Linked DNA regions of Homo sapiens. The protein of the gene in region 2 purifies or fractionates together with the protein of the main gene of each other region. This does not show direct contact. Each region holds a gene or a part of one and is shown on either strand. Other genes may lie near its edges.

What was found. The genes of interacting proteins can lie anywhere in the genome.
Region 1: the proteins of MKRN1 (region 2) and IGF2BP3 purify together in Homo sapiens (affinity purification with mass spectrometry; 2 studies listed by BioGRID and IntAct, with this or other methods). This does not show direct contact.

The regions. Positions count from the first base shown.
Region 1 is NC_000007.14:23,316,852-23,320,604, forward strand, and holds part of IGF2BP3 (insulin-like growth factor 2 mRNA-binding protein 3), read right to left. Parts: intron 2,404-3,753; coding exon 2,287-2,403; intron 863-2,286; coding exon 788-862; intron 1-787. UniProt on the Homo sapiens protein: RNA-binding factor that may recruit target transcripts to cytoplasmic protein-RNA complexes (mRNPs). This transcript 'caging' into mRNPs allows mRNA transport and transient storage.
Region 2 is NC_000007.14:140,452,428-140,455,553, reverse strand, and holds the end of MKRN1 (E3 ubiquitin-protein ligase makorin-1), read left to right. Parts: intron 1-320; coding exon 321-459; intron 460-824; coding exon 825-1,037; 3' UTR 1,038-2,521; downstream 2,522-3,126. UniProt on the Homo sapiens protein: E3 ubiquitin ligase catalyzing the covalent attachment of ubiquitin moieties onto substrate proteins. These substrates include FILIP1, p53/TP53, CDKN1A and TERT.

The DNA of each region.
Region 1 (3,753 bases), about 120 Mb from region 2:
ATAGTCTGTTGAATACCCCCAGCACGCTAATTTTGTGCTGCCCATGTGTTAGGCACTTTTCTAAACATTTCATATATTGTGTAAACCTTAAACTACCTTAGGATGTAGGTGCTCTTATCCCTGGTTTTACAGAAAAAGGTTAAGTAACTTGCCCAATGTCATACAAGGCAAATGGCAGAGCTAGGATTTGAACTAGCAGCCTGGCTGCCAAGTCTCAGCTCTACCATCTCTCAGTAGACATTGAAAGGCACACTGCAGCCCCAAAGACCTCAAATCCCACTAAACGTGCAATGGTTCATACCAGAACAAATGCTACAAGAGCTCCTGCCATTCCTATCTCTAAGATCCCAGGGATTAGAGAGATTTGTAGAGTCTATGGGCAGGGTCTAACAGAGATAATCCAAGGGTAAGGAAAAAGGGGGCATTTTAATTCAAGTCTAGGCAATCTCAGGGACAGGAGGGAAAACATCTGAAAACAAGTTTCCAAGGCATATTAACCTGGCAGGTTTGTAAATTTTAAGGTCTCACCTTAGCATAGGATTACAAACCATTAAGCAAAATTAACCTTTGAGAGACAGGTAAATCCAGCAACCAGTACAGAACTCTTAAAATTAAAGACTTTTGGTTAATTTCGAAATATAATTTTGAGTGTGATTCTACTCAGCTCTTAGATAAGAATTTCCATTGACTCTTTCTGAGATTTAGACATATTTAAGGGAGACGCCAGGTTATGGACTACCTGTGCATTTGTTACCTGTGGACATAGCACATACTCTAGAGCACATACCTTGAACTGAGCCTCTGGTGGTCCAGTGATAATCACCATCCTCACTTTAGCATCTGGTGCTTCCGCTGGAGCAATCTGTAACAGACCCAACAACAAGTTATGATACTTTCAGGTATCACTGATAGGCATCTTGGGCCAACCAGCCTAACATTTGCATGTGACTGGCTGAAATGCAGAATTAAAGCCTTCGTGAAGGAAATTAGGGAGAGGCAGCAATTCCTGTGGGTTCACAATTTAGGCCTCCCTCCTGCATATACTATATGCTTATTCTGTGCCGGGCCCTAATGGAGACCTCCACGTGCTGTCTCTCAGCTAATCCTCACCACGTCCTGATGAAGTAGTATTACCTCCACTTCACAAATGCGGAAATGGAAGGCTGGAGAAATTGAGTTATCTGGACCATGATCACACAGCTAACAGAGCTAGAGGGAGAGCTGGGTCTGTCTCCATTGCCTGTGTTCACTACACCAGTGGTGCTCAAAGTATGGTCCTTGGCCCACTTGCATCAGGGCTCCTTGGGCTTCCTGTGTATGCAACACACTCTAGGAATCTCTGTACCCTAAGTTTCAAGGATACTGCACACCACATGCCTTTGTTTGTCTGAGGCAGGGTCTTACTGTGTGGCCTAGGCTGGAGTGCAGTGGTGTGATCATAGCTCACTGCAGCCTCAACCACCCAAGCTCAAGTGTTCCTCCCACCTCAGCCTCCCAAGCAGCTGGGACTACAGGTGTGTGCCACCATGCCTGGCTAATTACACTTTTTTTTTTGTAGAGATGGGGTCTCACCATGTTGCACAGTCTGGTCTTCAGCTCCTGGGGTCAAGCAATTTGCCTGCTTTGGCCTCCCAAAGTGCTGGGATTACAGGTGTGAGCCACCGCACCTGGCCAACCTTTATTTTCCTTAAATAAGGCATCAAAATACAGAATCTTCAGAACACACAGTTATCTATTACGGCAGACACCATTATTTGTCCTCTGGTATGTTACCTTCTGTAGTTACAAAATGTTTAGCTGACTGTGCATAGCCTGTATTTTGCCCCTTCAACTTCGTCTGGCCAAGTTCTGGGCAATGGAAATATAGGTAGAAATATCCCACAGTAGCTAACAAGAAACCTCCCTAGAAGAAAAGCTCTTTATTATGTTCTCCTCTCCTACTGGCTGGGCAACAGACCTGATTCCTGGAGCACTGAATGGTGTCAATCTGGAACCAAGAGGGACCAAGGCCGTACCTGGGGAAGGTGGCTTGGAAGGAACTTAGGTCCAAGGACTTGGTGGGGGCAGAGCCAACACCCAGCCCGGATGTTCACCTCCTAACTGTGTTTTCTGCACAGAGAAGTTAGCCTCCTTGGTGTAAGCCACTGTTGTTTGGGGGTTTCTTCATATCCTTATGTAACCCTAACAGTGTCTTTTACATTCTATTCAAATTATAAAGTGGCAAGAAGATTCATATTTCTGTAACTTACTTAAAGAACCAGAGAACCACAGCTGGTAGAACAGTACCTTAATTGAAGCTCCAGCAAAGCGAGAAAGCTGCTTGATGTGCTGGCCCTGCTTGCCGATGATGGCACCGACTGATAGAGCTGGGATAAACAGATGAACAGTCTCCGTTTCTGATTGCTGTTAGAAAAGAAAGCCAGGACACCCATGTTTATTTGCTACAAATCAGGCTTTTGTTAACATTAGCTTTAGGAAGGACACCTTCTCATGCAGTAGGAATACCAGGAAAGTTTAAGGAAAAGCTACCATAAGAAGTTGACCAGACCTTACCTAATAGGTCAAGAAGATCTCATACAGTCATCCTGAAAACAGTGGTATTTAAAATTTCACTTTTCTCTACTGTTGCCTTAAACTTTAAAATGTCACTGAGTTATGGATTTAAAAGATATGTAGATGTTGTAAAGTTTAATCATATTAGAATAGCGGGACATGCTTGCATTAAAAATTAAGTAAGAGCCCCCTACCACTCTCAAGGTAGATTCTTAACAAGTAAATGAAATTCTGGGCTACATATCAAACACAACAGAACTCAAGGACGCCAGCTCCACACCTTATCTATGTAGGTTTCACTCCTTAAACACATACACAGTGAAGTGTTTAAGAGAAAAGCTGAATTTTGTTACATATGACTAAATTGTATGAAACCTTACCACTGTCATTCAATAGTTATCACATCCAAGCACAGGACAGGATTAGGAGAGAGCTAATTCACTTTAGTGGTAAGATGCCCTAAGATGCTTTCCCACAGAATTCCTTATTCCTTCCATCTGTGCCTTCCCTTTGCTTTTTTTTTGAGATGGAATCTCACTCTTGTTGCCCAGACTAGAGTGCAATGGCACGATCTCGGCTCACTGCAACCTCCACCTCCCGGATTCAAGCTACTCTCCTGCCTCAGCTTCCCAAGGAGCTGAGATTACAGGCACTTGTCACCACACCCGGCTAATTTTTTTTTTTTTTTGTAGAGATAGGGTTTCACCATGTTGGCCAGGCTGGTCTTGAACTCCTGACCTCAAATGATCCACCCGCCTTGGCCTCCCAAAGTGCTGGGATTACAGGCGTGAGCCACTGCGCCCAGCCCCCTTTGCATTTTATACATGAAAAAATTAGAAAATATTTTGTAGGCTAACTCCTGAAAGGTCATTCATAAATAGATTTTATCTATGTACCTCATTCCTTCACTACTTCCCACTTCAAGCCAGTTGTGCCCTTCCTGGGTCTCTTTTCAAATAGTCCTTGCAGGGATAAAGGACACATTTGCTCAAGAGTTCACAGTGACTGGGCTCCTAAAAAGGCCAATTCAAGGTTCAAGGTTCAGTAATGCTACCAGTCAACTAACAGTTCTAAAGTACAGAAGCAGTGCACATAATTTATGCATTTTCCACTTTGTTTACCTTCTAACAATATAGTGAGAAAAACACTTCCAAGGATAAGCTAGTTCCAAGACACATATTACAAGAAATAGTTATTGAA
Region 2 (3,126 bases):
CCCATGAGTGGGGTTCTACCTTATTCTGAATCCGTGTCATAGCTGTCCTATGTTCTCATGTGTTGGCTTTCTAGAAGATTTTCTCTCTATGGCATCTGCTTGTACTAGAGCTATTAACCAGCATAGACTTGAACAGAGTTACCGGTTTCTAGTTAGTGTTTCTTGCATTGGCACACACATGTTTATAAGAACACATCTTGGGGAGGGCTGTAAGCTGACATACTGGTTCTATCCCTACCTGTTTAAAGAAACCCCGGATGATAGTCAAATACAGACCTGAAATCCACTGTGAATAAGGGTTGCGATATTTTCCTTTCCAGCAACAAGGCGTGCAGGTATTTTGATGAAGGACGTGGGAGCTGCCCATTTGGAGGGAACTGTTTTTACAAGCATGCGTACCCTGATGGCCGTAGAGAGGAGCCACAGAGACAGAAAGTGGGAACATCAAGCAGATACCGGGTAACTCTCACTGTTTTTTTAAAGGAGGGGAAATTCCAAGGTATCAGTTGAGTCCTGCACATATTGGGGTAGGGGAAGGAGAAGGTTAACGCTCAGGTCTGGGAGCGAAAGTGTAGAGTATTAAAGGAGGAAACAAACCTCAGAAAACTGGGAGGGATAGGAAAGGAAGAAAAAATGTGTGTTAAAGCTCTAGCCTAAACGATTTCCATGAAGTAACCAGAGGGGAGGAAGTGGTAAATGGAAACCCTAACTAAGAAGTCTGGTTCGTCATGCCCTCTGGTGTGCTGGACGTTTTGCCTTATAAACAACAGGATAGAAGATACTGCTCGACAGTGCCATCCCTATCATGGCCTTGTTTTTTACAGGCCCAACGAAGGAACCACTTCTGGGAACTCATTGAGGAAAGAGAGAACAGCAACCCCTTTGACAACGATGAAGAAGAGGTTGTCACCTTTGAGCTGGGCGAGATGTTGCTTATGCTTTTGGCTGCAGGTGGGGACGACGAACTAACAGACTCTGAAGATGAGTGGGACTTGTTTCATGATGAGCTGGAAGATTTTTATGACTTGGATCTATAGCAACCTTGCGTGGCGTGTGAACTGGTCTGCTGACCTCAGACAGCAGCTGTCCCCTGTGGTGGTGTGGCAGTGCCTGTGTTCTCTCCTAGGCAGGCCTCTCAACTCCAGGTGCTGTCCTAAGAATTTTTACCCAGGGCCTGTCTTCTCAACCCCTCACCTTTCCCTGAGGAGTGTGTTGTTTTCCCTGTTGAAAAAAGTTACAAAAATAAATCTTAAAGTTAGTTTTTTGTAACACGAATTTAACTGTCAGACAGTTAGTGTAGGTGTGTTGCGTCATCTGTTTTCAACCAGATTGCATTTATGGACTTTTCACACACTCATTTTGAGGACCCCAGGTTCAAAAGTAAAAGCAGTGGCCCTGCTTTGGGGTCCAAGAATAGGAGTGATGGGTGAAGGGACCTAAGCTGGCCAATAGCCCTCTGCCCCAGACATGGGATGTGGATCCTTGAGGTTTCTGGTGAAATCTGCACATCTGTGTTTTTATATCTGTTCCCTACCCTGTAATCCCTACCACGTGCACTTGTTCTGTGGTTTTGGTCTCTTGTTTAATTGCACACAAGTAATACTACTGGGTAACCAGAATCAGGTGTGAATGTGTTGAGATTTTTTACTGTTTTGCATGATAGGAAAATTGAGAAAGAATACGTATAAAAGATAGAGAGGCATAACATCAATGCAGAGTTGGAAGTTGGCTCCCAAGGGCTGACATGGTGTGAGTGTGTGGGTGTGTGATAAGCTTCTCATCCCTGCATAGATGCAGTATTCTTAGCCTTAGTAGAAAAACCTGGTTTAGTGGTTTAAGCCTTGTGTGGCAGATAGATCTTAAAGGGCAAAGCAGTATATTGGTAGTTGTCAATATAGCAGTGCTAGCTCTGTCTATATAAATAGAGAAATGGGGTTAGCCATAGAGGTTAAAACTACCTGGTTATCCCATATAATAACACAAACTGGGTCTTGGATACACAGTTGTATTTAATGTTTTACGATCTAGCCTTTCCAGTACAGGCACTTTCTGAGAAACCTTTGTCCTCACTTGAGGCATTTTGTTGTCGGGTTTTTGTGTTTGTTTTTGTGGGTATTTGCCTCATTCCACCCCTGAGCTTTCAGGTAGACAGACGTGATTCAAAACTCTGTTCTAAGGTGTTTATTGTAGTGGAGTAATGGGTTTGCAGTGATAAGTCATACTTTTCCACCGAAAGGGAGGGCTTGGGAATCCCTGAGATTAGCTAAAGTTAAGTTGTTGGAAGAATTCCTTGATTGGAAATTGTACCTTTGTGTTTTGTTGCTCTGTTTCCTGAAAATAACTCGGGGATGCTCCTGGTTTGTCCATCTACTGCTTTGATTCCTTGGATCCCACCCATTCTTTCACTTTAAGAAAAAACAAATAATTGTTGCAGAGGTCTCTGTATTTTGCAGCTGCCCTTTTGTAAGAAGCACTTTTCCCAAATAAAACAATTAAAAAAAAAGTTGGCTGTTCTGTGTAATGAGCTGTTTTTGAAATGTGCCGATGTCAAAGAATAATGATGTTTTTCTTTCACTGACTCTTCGATCGGTCCCTTGTCGGATATTCGGGAGGATAGGTACTTTGAGAAATGTGTGTGAGAGAGAAAGGGAAACCTTAACTAGCCGGGGTCATCAAACAATCCTATACTTGAAAATGTTCAAGACTAACGCTGGGCCACCTGTTGAGCAAAAGGCACTGGCAGTTTTCTGCTACCATGCACTTGCGGTTGAACTTGCTTCATGCCCTTAGATAACGGGGGAAGGTCATAATATAATTGTATTTTGAAAGCTTATTGTTCTGCATAATTATTTCGTGAATTTTTAAGGAGTTTTCATTATTGTGAATTTTTTGTGAGTAAGAACCATTCTGCTACTCCCATGGAAGACCTTCAGGTGACCTTTTTTCCACACTTGTAAAAATAACTGCTCCTCGATTTTAGTATTTATGTTAAGAATTTATGGCTGGGTGCGGTGGCTCACGCCTGTAATCCCAGCACTTTGGGATTACAGAGGCAGGAAAATCACTTGAACGTGGGAGGTGGAAGTTGCAGTGAGCTGAGATCATGCCATTGCACTCCAGCCTGGG